Regions from separate parts of the Homo sapiens genome. Here region 1 is linked to region 2. The links come from fine-mapping of genetic effects on gene expression. Tissue or cell type: blood mononuclear cells. Region 2 holds a variant in brackets; the other region holds the start of a gene. All regions are shown on one strand. Distances are from middle to middle.

Evidence for each region. PIP is the estimated chance that this variant, and not a neighbour inherited with it, causes the effect.
Region 1: XRN1 starts here. The variant in region 2 is fine-mapped to the expression of XRN1 in blood mononuclear cells (TOPMed, PIP above 0.99).

Annotation. Positions count from the first base shown.
Region 1 is chr3:142,444,509-142,452,654 of GRCh38, reverse strand. XRN1 (5'-3' exoribonuclease 1) reads left to right here and starts at 4,618. Exons shown (of 41, transcript NM_001282857.2): 1 at 4,618-4,785. The coding sequence starts at 4,711. It overlaps ATR (ATR checkpoint kinase), which reads left to right. Exons shown (of 47, transcript NM_001184.4): 47 at 3,053-3,420. The coding sequence ends at 3,226. It also overlaps the pseudogene EIF2AK1P1. RefSeq lists enhancers at 4,621-4,900, 6,433-6,792.
Region 2 is chr3:142,383,044-142,391,250 of GRCh38, reverse strand. It overlaps XRN1 (5'-3' exoribonuclease 1), which reads left to right. Exons shown (of 41, transcript NM_001282857.2): 21 at 6,566-6,728; 22 at 7,838-7,951. Among named protein-coding and RNA genes, the nearest start is that of XRN1, 61 kb to the left of the region's middle. The variant A/T (reference allele first, on the strand shown) is at 3,742.

The DNA.
Region 1 (8,146 bases), 61 kb before region 2:
TCATCCAGGCTGGAGTACAGTGGCACGATCTTGGCTCACGGCAACCTCTGCCTCCTGGGTTCAAGCAGTTCTCCTGCCTTAGCCTCCCAAGTAGCTGGGATTATAAGCGTGCACCACCACAGCTGGCTAATTATTATATTTTTAGTAGAGATGGGTTTCACCATGTTGGCCAGGCTGGTCTTGAACCCCTGGCTTCAAGTGATCCACCCACCTCAGCATCCCAAAATGCAGGGATTATAGGCATAAGCCACTGTGCCTAGCTCAGATAGTTGTTTTTAATAAGTTAGAATAGATTGAGGATTCGTTTTTTTTGGTGGGGGGCACTCTTACATCTTTAATAAGTCTTGTACAGGCTTACTAAATACAATGAATTATACCAACTATATGCTAATAAAGATTAAAAATTTACATTCCAGTTAACTACCTAAAGAGTTTAAGTCCACTTTCATCCTACTGATATAGCTCGAGGAAGGCTAGACCTGTACGCCCCCATCCTTCATGTCATCCTTAACCCTTTGTCTTGAGAAAGAAGGTTTAGCTGCTTCTTTAGTTCTTCTAAAAGAACTAAAAGAAAAATTTCTTTTTCTTGCTCTATTATCTTCATCTGTAGGGTGAGATTAATATTTCCAGAATTGTGGAAAAATTCACTCTGTAGCAGTTGAAGAGCAGATGGTCTCTGGGACATGTTCCTTTTCGTTAAGTGATAGATATACTTGGCTTGTACTGGATACCTTTTACTGAGGGATTCCAATATCTGACCAGTTCTTGAACCTGTTAAAACTTCTGCTCGCTCCATTTCTGTTCTAAACAGCTGAAAGAGCTCTAGCAGGATCACACTCAAGCTATATACATATCTAACTGGACAAAGCCAGCCCTGGTCTCTACAAATAGTTTTTGTTTTTTTTTAATTAGCTGGGCTCAGTGGCACACTCCTGTAGTCCCAGCTACTTGGGAGGCTGAGGTGGGAGGATCACTTGACCCCAGGAGTTGGAGGCTGCTGTGAGCTATGATGACACCACTGCACTCCAGCCTGGGCAACAGAGTGAGACCCTTGGCATCATACTCAGATCCTTCCAACTGCTGGGATGAAGCATACAGACAAGTGCCCACTCTGGATATAGGTGTTGGTGTTCTCTTTCTGTTTCTATGGGTCCAGTCTGTGTTCTTTTGTAAGATGTCTGGGCAAGCCAGACCAAAGTCTCCTATTTTTACTTGCTGATCAGGGCCATGAAGAAAAATATTTCTAGGCTTCAGATCTCTGTTTACAATACCCATGTTATGTATGTAAAACACACCTTCCACTAAATCTTGAAAATTTTTTGTTGCAACACTGGCCATAAGGACAGGCAAACTTGCCCACACACTCTTGGCCCTGTTTGTTTCTCTCAGCTAGCCAGTCCCACAGCTGGAGCTTGCACACCTGCATCTGGATGTGCAGCATCAGGTGGTACTGCACCTCGATCCCCAACAAGTTGAAGTTTTCTTTGGAAGATTCCTCAGTGGATGTGAAATTCTCCTCTAGGAGGGAATTACACCTGAGCAGCAGGGGCTGTTTCACAATTGACCAGGTAGACAAACCAGCCAGGCCATTTTCCTGGAGCTCCAGGGATGATTCATATTCACTGGTGTCTCTTAAGACGGAATTGATGGTGTAGTTCACAGCTTGTTGTTCTGATTTTGAGTGTCAGATTCTGCAAAGGGTTTTTCTTTTCTGAGGTGAGCTCCGCGAAGATAATGGGTGAGCTGCTATTTTCACCATTTTTAACACCGTATTGGTATCTGTCTGCTTGGTCGGAGAACACTTCCAGAAATGGCAACTGAACGGAAGCTCTGTCTGCTTGTGGTTGGACCACTTGAACATGTTCTGTCCACGCAGTGTGATAACGAATGATATTAGGGTGCTGAAGACCTGCCAGCACCTTCATTCCCCGTAGTTCTTTCATGTAATGTGTTTTTGTTGCACCCTTAATCAGGATTTTTTAAATTGCATAATACTGACCATCTAATTTATTCCTGACCTTGTATACTCTTCCATATCCACCTTTTCCTAAGATGGCAAGTTCTTCAAATTCATTTAAGTAACGTGAAGTTTGTGCTTCAAAGGGTACTTCCCTTGATCTGATTTTCTGGATATGAGAAATAGCCTCACAAGGATCCTGATGAACTCTCTCTTTAGTGGACCTCATTAAGTGAGTAATAGCTCTGTGGTGATGTAGTCTCAATGAGCTAAACTTGTCACAAGTGAAAGAAGACAGCAGCCCCATTTTGATAAAGGTCTGGCAAAGTAACTTAAACACTGTCTTGAATGAACTGGGTTTGGTTCACGCACATGGCTCAAGTGCTTCACCAAAGAAATAAGCGGCAGCTGGTTTGCAACTGCAAAAGGGAAAGTTGGCTGTTGTAGGGGTTATTTTAATACCTGGAGTTCTGCTGGAACATAAGTCATATTTGGAGTCCAGGCTCTTGGCGGAAAAGTCGATGGCAGATGGCACAGCAACAGTCTCCACCCCGTGGCCCTCCTCTTTGTGCTCGTGGGCTGCAGCGCAGCCCACCAGCCCACCCAGCACCACCTCTGAGAATTATTCTTCTAATAACGTTATTCTTCCTTTTGCATTCAGATATGCTTAAGAAATTGTACAGTTCCAAGTAGCTCACTTAGAACACCCATTTGCATGTACTAACATAATGTAAATATTAGGCAGTACAGCATTGTTATTTGAATATTCATTGAAATGTTTAAGTCCTAAACACTTCCAAAGCAGATTTAAAAAATTATTTTTCTAGAATTGTAATGTGTAAATAATTCCCTGGTATTTCACGTAGTCCAGAAACATGTCCAAGCAGTTGATGTTGAATCAATCTTGCGAGCCTCCAAATCAGTATCACAAGCTAACTGTATTTGTTTAATTTCTTCTTTTCCTGTATTTGCTCTTACAAAAGGGGTATTGGTCAGTAAAATGGTATTAACATTTATTAAATGTCAAAATATAAAGAAAGGTAGTAATTCCAAATTATTAACATCTGTTTTTGGTTTTATGTTTCTTCTTTTTAGGCCAAGACCCATGTTCTTGACATTGAGCAGCGACTACAAGGTGTAATCAAGACTCGAAATAGAGTGACAGGACTGCCGTTATCTATTGAAGGACATGTGCATTACCTTATACAGGAAGCTACTGATGAAAACTTACTATGCCAGATGTATCTTGGTTGGACTCCATATATGTGAAATGAAATTATGTAAAAGAATATGTTAATAATCTAAAAGTAATGCATTTGGTATGAATCTGTGGTTGTATCTGTTCAATTCTAAAGTACAACATAAATTTACGTTCTCAGCAACTGTTATTTCTCTCTGATCATTAATTATATGTAAAATAATATACATTCAGTTATTAAGAAATAAACTGCTTTCTTAATACATACTGTGCATTATAATTGGAGAAATAGAATATCATGTGTTCTTATGGTCAAAAACTATATTTGCAAGAAACAAGCAAGTCTAATTTCATTTTACAACTTCTATTGATTTCCTTTTAAAAGTCCTAGCTATTGTAAGGATTCACTTGAAGAACAAAATTATATGGAATAAATACTGTGGGCAAGGCGTTGTGCCAGACTTGTGCATAGAGCTACCCTCTCCTGCCCTCCAGGAAGTGACAGTCTAGTAAGAGAGATATATAAATATAAATAGCATATCATTAAGTTCACTTAATAAAACTTTGTTTTAAAGTGTGATAGGGAAAAAATATAAGCCAAGAAGCGTGAATGTGAAAACGAAATAAACATTCTGTAATTTGTGTGATGCTGCCATACTGCAGTCCCAGAATGCAGAATCCAGTGGTCATGAAAGACAGCGATACTTAACATTTCCTGAGATCTTAAAATCCAAAAAGTATTAAATGTTTAAGGTTTTTCTGTAAGTTTTCATCCAGAAGACTTAAATACAAAGTAACGGGTTAATACATTCAAATAAGTGGAAAACTCTTACATTTAAAACTGATAATTTCACTTAAGTTGATAGAACTCTCCTTTGCTGTGCGGTTGAAAGTGTGATGGGGAAAAATATGATAAACCCGGATGCAAGAATGTCAAAACTAAACATTAAATGATTTCGTATCCAAGGTCTTATGTTAACAGTTGCGGGGGGCGGGTACATGGGAAATTTTTTTGAACAATTTGGAAAAGAACGTTTTTAAACGTATGTATTAAGAAACGTAAGTTTAAATTCCTCAGAGAAAAAAAATTATTGACAAAACAACAAACTAAGCCAAGTAAATCACCAGATCTTTCGAAATCTGAATGAAAAATACTGAGATTAGCAACCCTAGGAGACAAGCGGAACAAAAATCAGTGTTCGATACCCTTCCCACACCTTCGTACGGTTTTCATGCCACTTCCAAATCCACTTAGAAAGCACAACTCTATCATGGGGCATTTTCGCCCCTAAGTTGCAACACACCAGCAAACCTCCGCAGATTCCCTGACCGCCACTGGACAGTACCGCGGCCCCGGCCGCGCGAGGCCCGGAGGGCTAAGCCCCGCCCCTCGGACGGCCTCGGATCCTGCCGCTCTAGGCCCGCCGGGCGCTCTCTATGGTCGGCCGGGCGGTGTGTTGTCATCCGCGGAGCGACGACCGGAGGCTGCGGCGGAGCCCCGGCGGGGCGTTTGGTTTCGGTTTGGCCCTGACTGGGATTAGTGTTGACGATCGAAATGGGAGTCCCCAAGTTTTACAGATGGATCTCAGAGCGGTATCCCTGTCTCAGCGAAGTGGTGAAAGAGCATCAGGTGGGTGAGCGAGGGGCAACGGCTCAGAAAGCCGAGGACCCGGGGCTCCGCGGCCCTCTCCACCTTAGAGCTGGGGCTTTCGAGCCACCTCTTTCCCCTCGTCGTCTGGACGATTAGTGGCATTAGGGAGGGGGACGGAAGGTTTGAGGACGCCCGGATGAGCCGAAAGGGGCTAAGGACGCAGGTTGCCTGTGTGTGGACAGAGCCGCTGGGTTCACGGCTTCTCTGACAGCTCTTGCTTCTGCTGGTCCTTCCGCGACTCCGAAATGAAGTCCTGGGAAAGAACGCTTTTACTGTTCTCCGGTTTCCTCCCGGGGAGCTGCAAGTTGCCTTTTTCCTTACAGAGGCTGCGAAGCTGGAGTGGGTGTCCTCGTAGGTTCCCCCATCCCACCCAGAGCGGCAGACCCACTTACAGACGATAACAGCCGCTTCCGCACGCAGTCACCTTGTTTACTTTCCCTGATCTAGAGCGCGGCCCACCCGGCCCCCGGAGCCTAGACTTTCCGACGTGGCTGATGGTCATATTGGTGATGCCTTTTGTTACTTTCTGTTATTTCAAAAGCAGCACCAATCCCCTGTTGCCAAAACAAAAAACTCTTGGGCCAGCTGGGGAGTGGGGCGTAGGACCTTTTATTTGGAGGCCTCACTGTGTGACAGAGGGGGTTGGGAAACGAATTGATAGAACATTAATACTACTAATAATATTTGGCATGTACTGACCCCAGGACAACGTTAATGTGTAGATTCCGAAAACGTAGTTTATATATTGGAACTGTGGAAAGAGAGGAGAAAGCAGTCGTCTATTAGGTAAACTAGACTTTGGGTGATACTTTGGTGTTTGTCACATTTAATGAATTTGATCTCTTTTCTGATGCTTTACAGAAAAAAAGCTTGAAATTTGTGTAGCTGATTGAATCAGTTGTGATGGGTAGTATTGTAAATAGCCTATTAAATTATGGTTTAATCGGCATTTACGAACATGAAGGTAGTTTACTTCTGGAAAGGAGTTTTTGTTGCTGGATTCCAATCAGATTTGGTAGATGAGAAATAGACTACAAAAAGTTTCCAAGGTTAGCTTATCTTGAATTTATTTGAAACATAGATTGAGTTAGGTTTAGAGAGGTATTTTTTTCCCCCGGGGAGGGCTAAAAAGGAAACCAGTACATTGCAGAAATGGAGACAACCAACTTTGGCTTTTCTTGCATCCTTCAGTCAGTACCTGCTATATATCAGTCACTTTATCTCTAAAGTGCAAAAATAATGCGATTGTTATTCGTGATGATTTAATACATAATTTGTTCAGTAATATTTTTATTCTGTAGTCTGTGGCACAGAATTTGGTTTGGTGAAAATATCTTAGATTCTCTCCATCCTGAGGAATTTTGTTACTGAAGAATGAAAATCTCTTTAATGCAGTTTTATGACATGGACACTAAGGATAGGTTTTGTGAAAGCTTTATATAGAAACTGGGAGGAGAATTATTTTTAAATTTCACTGTAAATAAATTTTAAAATTTGGTTCATTGTTGTGATACCTTTCAAAAATGTTTGATTAAAAAGAGACCAAAGGTTATCAGCTTCTCTGTTAAGTAGAACTTAAAGATGGTAATGCCTAAATAAGTCACAGGCATTCAAAAGCTAGTCCTGGGCGGGAAGGATAGGGAGAAGAAGTAAGTTACGGGAAGTCAGTGGTGTGGCCTCAGTAGCATAGGTTTTCAGTTTCTCTGAATCATCTTGTAAAAACAGAAAGAGAAACTAGAAACCAAAGTTTAAAATCCATAAAACAATTACAACAAACCATGTGACATGCTATCCCCATGAAACTCAAAACATAACTAGGTGAGGCAAACTATCAATAGTCTCTAGACACCGTTGATATTGCCATCTGTGCAAAAGCGAGAAGGAAGCAATGGGGCAACATCTGATGAACCTTAGAACAGAATTCCAGAATAGCCAGCGGTATCCACTAAAAGACTGTGCTGGCCAATTAGATAGCGGTAGCTGAAACAGAGGAGTTTTATTCACTCCATTATTGACTGGGTGAAGGTCTACCATAAGAAAGACCAAACAGGCAGGAGTAGTCTACCTCCTGTGAACACTCAAAACTGACTTGCCAAGGTGCCATTCTAGACCAGAGCCCTAAGGAAAAGGGAGTGGAATAAAGTCTTACGGAAATGTTATGCTGGAAGTGGAATAAAATTTTATGAAAGGGACAATAGAGACAAGAAGAGAAGGAGATAGACCATATAAAAGTGAGGCAAAGTCATAGAATCAAGAAATCTTAGAAAACAAACCACAAAGCAAACCACTGTATTTTTTAACACTACCCAGAAACAGCTTTGTGAACTTATATTCCCTGAACCTCTACTCATTCTAAAAGTTCAAGAAAATTAAATTCACATAAAAATGAGCTACAGAAAGGTATTGAGATCAAATTACATACAAAGTTATTATACGAGAAAAAGGGACAGAGTATCTCTCCAGACATAAAAACTTGCAATGAAAAAAATGCACACAAAATAGACCAAAATTATAACCAAAACTATTATCTATTTCACAATGAGTTAAAAGGCATTAAGAAAATGAGGTAAGACATGAAAGAACAACGTGTATCAATTATGAAAATGTGAGAATGAGATGACAGAGAAAGTTAGAAGTAAATGAAAAAAAAATGCAGAGCTGAGCCTCAAATAGAAGCAAGACGAGCAAATGATACCATTTGAGAAAACAATCGGCAGTGGAAAGATGAAATTTTAAAAAATAAAATAGATTTAAAAGATTCAAGAAAAAGTAACGATAAGAAAGATAGGCAAAGAAGACAAATAGTAGAGGTGCCTGAAAAAGAAAAAACCAAAGCAGCATAACAGAATGGGTACTCAGTAAATATTTTTTGAGTGAATTAATTTATTAGCTATAGCATATAGCATATAGAAATGCATATTAAAATAGACATGGTATATTAGTATGTTGTAAAACAGTATTTTTTAAAAAAGTGAAATGAAGCCTGGGATTATTATGATTATTTTTTTTTATGAAACATAGTGTATATACTTATGGGGTTCATGAGATGTTTTCGTACAGGCATGCAGTGTGTAATAATCATATCATGGAGAATGGAGTATCCATCCACTCAAGTATTTATCCTTTGTGTTAAAATCTAATTACACTCTTTTAGTTGTTTTTAAATTATTGCCTATCGTCACCCTGTTGTGCTATCACATAGTAGGTCTTATTCATTCTTTTTTTTTATTTTTTATTTTGGATACAAGGTCGCGCTCTGTCACCCCGGCTGGAGTACAGTGACGCAATCTCGGCTCACTGCAACCCCTGCCTCCCCGGTTCAAGCAAGTCTTGTGCCTTA
Region 2 (8,207 bases):
TTCAGAGATAGTTGCATTTTTTTTTACAAATTAGAGGCTTGCGACAACCATGTTGCAACTCTATCAGTGCCATTTTTTCCAACAGTATGTGCTCACTTCATGCCTGTGTGTCACATTTTGGTAATTCTCACAATATTTCAAACTTTATTATTGTTATTTTTATATCTGTCATGGTCATCTATGATCAGTGATTTTTAATGTTACTATTGTAATTGTTTTTGGTCACCATCAACCATGCCCATTTGAGATGGTGAATTAATCAATAAATGTTGTGTGTGTGCTGACTGCTCTACCAACCAACGGTCCCCTAGTCTCTTTCTCTTTCCCTATTCCATGAGACATAGCAATATTGAAATTAGGCCAGTTAGTAGCCCTACAATGTCCTCTTAAGTAGTCAAGTGAAAGGAAGAATCACATGTTTCTAGGTTTAAATCAAAAGCTGGAAATGATTAAGCTTAGTGAAGAAGGCATGTCAAAAGCTGATACAGGCCAAAAGCTAGGCTTCTTGCACCAAATAGTTGTGAATACAAAAGAAAAATTCTTGAAGGAAATCAAAAGTGCTACTCCAGTGAATACACCAATGATAAGCAAATTAAACAACCTTATTGCTAATATGGAGAAAGTTTTAGTGGTCTGGATAGAAGATGACACTAGTCACAGCATTCCCTTAAGCCAAAGGTTAATCCACAGTAAGGCCCTACCTTTCTTCAATTCTATAAAGGCTGAGAGAGGTGAGGAAGCTGCAGAAGAAAAGTTTGAAGTAAGCAGAGGTTGGTTCATGAAGTTTAAGGAAAGAAGCCATCTTCATAATATAAAGTGTGAGCTGAAGCAACAAATGCTAATGTAGAAGCTGTAGTGAGTCATCCAGATCTAGCTAAGATTGTTGATGAAGATGGCTACACTAAACAACAACCCTAGACAAAACAGCCTTCTATTGGAATAAGATGCCATCCTGGACTTCCATAGGTGCAGAGGAGAAGCCAATGCCTGGCTTCAAAGCCTCAAAAATCAGGTTAACTCTCTTGTTAGGGAAAAGTGCAACTGGTTACTTTAAGTTGAACCCGGTGCTCATTGACCATTCTGAAAATCCTGGGGCCTTTAAGAATTGTGCTAAATCTATGCCTGTGCTCTATAAATGGAACAGCGAAGTCTGAATGACAGCACATCTGTTAACAGTGTGGTTTACTGAATATGTTAAGTCCACTCTTGAGACCTACTGGTCATAGTAAAAGATCCTTTCCAAATATTACTGTTCATTGACAGTGCACCTGATCAACTGAGAGCTCTGATGGAGATATGCAAGGAGATAATGTTTTCACACATGCAAACACAACATCCATTCACGCATGCAAACACAACATCCATTCTGCAACCCATGGACTAAGGAGTACTTTGAACTTTCAAGTTTTAGTAGTTAAGAAATACATTTTTGGCCGGGCACAGTGGCACATGCCTGTAATCCCAGCACTTTGGGAGGCTGAGGTGGGTGGATCACCTGGGGTCAGTAGTTCGAGGCCAGCCTGGCCAACATGATGAAACACTGTCTCTACTAAAAATACAAAAATTAGCTGAGCGTGGTGGCGGACACCTGTAATCCCAGCTACTTGGGAGGCTGAGGCAGTAGAATCGCTTGAACCTGGGAGGCAGAGGTTGCAGTGAACCAAGATCACACCACTGCACTCCAGCCTGGGCAACAGAGCGAGACTCTGAGTGACTGCTCTGATGGATCTGAGCAAGGTGAATTGAAAACGTTCTGGAAAGGATTCACTATTATAGATGCCATTAAGAACATTCATGATTCATGGGATTTCAAAGTATCTATCAACATTAGCAGGAATTTGAAAGAAGTTGATTCCGACCCTCCTATATGACTTTGAGAGGTTCAAAACTTCAGTGGAGGAAGTAACTGCAGATGTGGTGGAAATAGCAAAAAAAAAGCTAGAATTAGAAGTGGAGCCTTAAGATGGAAATGAATTGCTGCTTTCTCATGATAAAACTTGAATGGATGAGGAATTGCTTCTTTGTTTTGTTTTGTTTTGAGACAGAGTCTCGCTCTGTCACCCAAGCCAGAGTGCAGTGGTGCGATCTCGGCTCACTGCAACCTCCACCTCTTGTGTTCAAGCTATTCTCGTGCCTCAGCCTCCTGAGTAGCTGGGATTCAGGCAAGCGCCACCATACGCAGCTAATTTTTTATATTTAGTAGAGACAGAGTTTTGCCATTTTGGCCAGGTTGGTCTCAAACTCGTGCTCTCAAGTGTCCACCTGCCTTGGCCTCCCAACGTGCCAAAGTGCTTAGATTATAGGCATGAGCCAATGCACCCGGCCAAGAGTAGCTTCTTATAGATGAACAATGAAAGTGGTTTCTTGAGATGGAATCTACTCATAGTGAAGATGCTGTGAACATTGTTGAAATGACAGCAAAGGATTTAGGATATTACATAAATTTAGTTGAAAAGCAGTGGCAGACTTTGAGAGCATTGACTCCAAGTTGGAAAGAACTTCTCTTGTGGGTAAAATGCTATAAAATAGCATTGCATTCTGCAGAGAAATCTTTCATGAAGAGTCAGCTGATACAGCAAACTTTATTATTGTCTTATTTTCAAAAATTGCGTCAGCCATCCCAACCTTCATCGGCCACTGCCCTGACTAATCAACAGCCATCAATATCAAGGTGAGACCCTCCACTAACAAAAAGTTAACTACTAATAGCCTACTGTTAGCATTTTTGAGCAATAAAGTACAGTTGATCTTTGAACAGTGTGGGAGGTAGGGGTGCTGACCCCCAATACAGTAAAAAAAATGCACATACAACTTTTGACTCCCCAAAACTTAACTGCTAAAAGCCTACTGTTCATCAGAAGACTTGCCGATAACATAAGTAGTTGATAACGCATATTTTGTATATGTATTATATAGTGTGTTCTTACAATAAAGTAAGATAGAAGAAAATGTTATTATAAAATCATAAGAGAAATATATTTACTATTAATTAAGTGGTAGTGGTTGATCATAACAGTTTTCATCTTCGTCTTCATGTTGAGTAGGCAGAGGAGGGGTTCATCTGCTGTCTTGGAGGTGTTAGAGGAGGAGGAAAATCTGCATGTAAGTGGACCTATGTCATTCAAACCTGTGTTTTTCAAGTGTCAGCTGTATTTGAAAATGAAAGTATTGTCTTAGCCCAGTCTGAGGCTGGGTAATTTATAAAGAAAAGAGGTATGTTTGGCTCAAAGTTCTGCAGACTGCACAAGAAGTATGGCATCAGCATATGTTTCTGGTAAGGGCCTTAGGAAGCTTCCACTCATAGCAGAAGACAAAGAGGAACAGGCGTGTACAGATCACATGGCAAGAAAAGAAGCAAGAGAGGGGTAGGGAGGGAGGTGCCAGGTTCTTTTTAACAGTCAGTTCTCATGGGAACTAGTAGAGTGATAAACCCCCGTATCCTCCTCATTGCAAGGAAGACAGCAGCAAGCCATTTATGAAGGATCCACCCCATGACCCAGACATCTCTCACCAGGCTCCATCTCCAACATTAGGGATTGGATTTCAACGTGAGACTTGGTGAAGTCAAACAAACTATATCCAAACCATAGTAGATATATACATTTTTTAAAGACATAATGCTATTATACACTTAATAGACTCAGTGTAAACATAACTTTGGTATGTACTGGGAAACAGAAAAATTCATGTGACTCACTTTATTGTGGTGGTCTGGAACTGAACCTGAAATGTCTCCCAAAG[A/T]ATGGCTGTATACATATGGAGCAAAAAATACTTGCGAATTATAGGTGTATTAATCATAAGTATATTACTTGATGAATTTTCACATGTGGAACAAGAATACAAGTCAAGAAACAATAACAGGAATATTACCATAATCCAAGGAAGTCCCTTGTACACCCTTTTATCCATTACCATCCGCTGCTCCCTCCCCACCCCCAGTGACGAGGATAACCATTTTGACTTGTAACCACATACATTTGTGTTTTCTATTTTTGAACTTTATGCAGTATAAGTTCATTCACACAGAGTGTATTCTTCTTGAGCCTGATTTCTTTTGGTCAGTATTGTGATTCTAATATCCATATTGTTACATGTAATCATAGTTTGTTCATTTTCACTAATGATACTATTACATTGTATGAATACAGCACAATTTTTCCATTCTACAGTGGATGGATATTTGAGTTGTTTCTCATTTGGGGCTCTTGGTGAACGTGTATATATGCATTCCTTTTGGGTATATGTCTATGCATTCCTTTTGGGTATATATCTAAGAGTAGAATTACTGCTTCATAGCATATGCCTACATTCAGCTTGAACAGATACTACCAAAAAGGTTTGCAAACTCTTTGTATCAATTTACGCTCTACCAGCAGTTTATAAGAACTTATGTTGATTTCTGTTTTCATAAGTACTTACTATTGCTTTTTCATTTTAGCCATTTTGGTATAGTAGTAGTATCTCATTTTGCTTTAATTTGCATTTCCCTGATGACTAATAAAATTGAACATCCTTTCGTGTTTGTTGGCCATTTGAATATGCATACTCTTTTGTGAAATGCCTGTTCAAGTCTGTTGCCCTTTTTAAAATTGGGTTGATTATCTTTTTCTCATTACTTTATAGTTTTCTTACTGGCTTATTGTGTCATTCTCAATTTCAGGGGAAAACTAAGTAATTTATCTTTAAATAAAATTATCACTGTAGCTTGTTTTTAATTACTGTTCTTTATCAGGTTAAGGAAATTTCCTTCTATTCTGATTAAGAGTTTTTATCATTAATTGGTGCTGATTTGTAAAATGTTTTTTCCGCAGCTGTCAAACTGATTATATTATTTTTATCCTGTTAATCTGATGAATTGCATTGATTGAATTTCCAATATTAATCTACCCCTAAATTTCTGGAATAAATCCCATTTATTTATGATATATTATCCTTTTATACATAATTGGATTTTATCTGTTTAAGTTTGTTTTAAGATTTTTGCATCTACTTTCATGAGAAATACTGGCCCATAATTATAAAGATTTCCTGAAATGTCCTGGTCAGCTGTTGATATCAAGATTACTGGCTAAATGACTTTTAAGTGAAAGTGGTAGAAAAAAATTCTAATAAATTTTTAGAAAATGGTGTGTTTCAAAAATTTGTTGGAAAACTTTTGTTTCTGGCTAAGGTGACATGACTTTTTTCAGACCAACTTTGCCATAGACAACATTATTAAAGTATAAGCTGATGTGAAAAAATATATAACGTGTTATATAATTATATACTATATTATATGCTATTTATATAGTCTATATTATATACTATTTTTATGACATATTTGTATAAACAAAACTTTTAAAGTGTGATTGGTAAAGTGAGCTCGGTAGATGGACTGAGTAGTAATACGGGCATACTAAAAATTGAATCAGTGAGCTAAATGATCAACCTTAGGAATTCCTTCAGTAAGCAGTACAAAAGCACAAAGAGATGAAAATAATATCAGAATTTTAATATCTATCTATTAGGAGTTCTAGAAAGAGAAAATGGAAAGGAGATAAGAAAGTATTCCTTAAATGAAGAATGATTATATATTTAGATGAAAGGTCAGCAAACTTCTTCTGTAAAGGGCAAATAGTAAATATTTTAGGCTTTGTAGACTTTACAATGTCTGTCACAACTACTCAACTTTACCATGTAGCGCAAAAGCAGCCATAGACAGGAAGTAAATGGATAACTATGTTCCAGTAAACTTTTATCTAAAAAACTAGGAGGCTGTCTGAATTACTTTAGATTGGAAAAGCCATCACATACTCCTGGCAACCCCCAATCTATTTTCTGTCTTCATGGATTTACCTATTTTAGATGTTTCATATAAATGGAATCATATGATATATGGCCTTTTGTATCAGGCTTCTTTCATTTAGCATGCTTTCGAAGTTCATACACATTGTAGCATGTGTCAGTGCTTATTCCTCTTTATGGCTGAATAATATTCCATTGTATGGATATGCCACTGTTTGTTTATCCATTTGTTCATTTATGAACATTTGGATTGTTTCTACCTTTTGGCTATTTGAATAGTGGTGCTATGATCATTTGTGTATCAATATTTGTTTGAGTACCTGTTTCCAATCCGGGGGGGTTGGAATGCTTAGAATTGTTGGGTCATGTGTTAATTATATGTTGCTTTTTGAGGAACTGCCAAACCGTTTTCCACAACAGCTGCACCATTTTACAGTCCCACCAGTAATGTACAGATGTTCCAGTTTTTCCATGTCATCACCAAAACTTATTTTTTTCCCTGTTTTTTAATTATAACGATCCTAGTGGATGTGAGAACAGGAGTTTTGTATAGCTCTATGAGTTCTTATTTAATCACAGAGACAGTTGGAGAAGTACCCACAGAGTAAAATAAATAATGCAAAAAGTCTCAAGTTAGGTACCTGGAACTGCTAGCGTATTTATTTAAAGTTTATTTACACACTTGATTATGAGTTGATAGTTTACGATAGTTGACGATTATCGTCCTAGAATATCTGCATACTCATTCATATGTATATTTCATGTTTATTCTTTATTTTAGCTACCTGAGAAGAAAAGGAATAATAATAAATGAAACATCTGCAGTTGTGTATGCTCAGTTACTCACAGGTCGTAAATATCAAATAAATCAAAATGGTGAAGTTCGTCTAGAGAAACAGTGGTCAAAACAAGTTGTTCCTTTTGTTTATCAAACTATTGTCAAGGTAAGTCTATATCAAGTTTCAATTCTGTCTTAATATACACTATTAATACACTATTCACTGTATAATGAAAAGATATGTTAATATAAATAGACTAATTCAGCAATGTATAATAGAGATTATCATTTAATATAATTTACAAAATAACTTATTATTTGTAAGAAGTATTACATGCTCAGACACTCAGTATATATAGTTAGGAAACTTGTCTTTTATGCTTTCGTATGCTTTTTTTTTTTTCTTTTTTTTTTTTTGAGACAGAGTCTCGCTCTGTTGCCCGGGCTGGAGTGCAGTGGCGCCATCTCGGCTCACTGCAGGCTCCGCCTTCTGGGTTCACGCCATTCTCCTGCCACAGCTTCCCGAGTAGCTGGGACTACAGGTGCCCGCCAGCACACCTGGCTAATTTTTTGGTATTTTTTAGTGGAGATGGGGTTTCACCATGTTAGCCAGGATGGTCTCAATCTCCTGACCTCGTGATCCACCCACCTCGGCCTCCCAAAGTGCTGAGATTACAGGCGTGAGCCACTGCGCCCAGCCTTTTATGGTTTTTTTTAAGGACTTAGACTCTAAAAGAAAAAATCCCACCATTAACTTACACCCTTGAATTTTATATTTTTATTCTTCAAAAATGTTTGCCTTAAATCTTATAAATGTAAAAGGCATTTTATTTTTGCATTTATAATCTTAGATACGATAAGAGGACAAAAATTTTTTTAAGTATGTAGCGATCCTGTAATTTGGGGTGTTATAGTACAGTGTAGTGATTAAGTGACTTAAGAACACTGGCTGCCTGAGTTGGCTTCTTAGCTGCATGACCTTGGACAAGATTCATCCCCTTTCTGTGCCCCAGTTTTGTCATCTGTAAAGTGAGGCTAATAATGGTCTCTGCCACAGAGGTTTGTCATGAGGATTAAATGAACTCAATAAATGTGTGAAGCACATAGAAGGGTGCCTGCCATATAACCAGTCAACAAATTTTAGCTCTTGGCATTATGTAGAAAAATCTTCACATTGACATTTGCAAACAGCATAGTCATAATCCCATAGGAAAAAAACTTGATACGCAATCTATAGAAATTATGACTAAGATTATTTACTTTTATTTTATGTAGGACATCCGAGCTTTCGACTCCCGTTTCTCCAATATCAAAACATTGGATGATTTGTTTCCTCTGAGAAGTATGGTCTTTATGCTGGGAACTCCCTATTATGGCTGCACTGGAGAAGTTAGTTTCCATTATTGTTACTGATACATTTTTCTCTAGTTTAAAGCAGTTACTTAACTTCTCTTCATTTAGGTTTAAATTAAAATATAATAATGAAGGGAAAAAATAAAGAATTTATCCATGTAACTTATGAACACAGTGTTTGACTTATATATCTAAATACTATATATCTAAGACTAAAGACCATATACTTTTAGTCTTGAGCAGATTAGGATCAAGAGGTGGTGTGTTCAAATCCTGATCTCTTTTTTTTTAG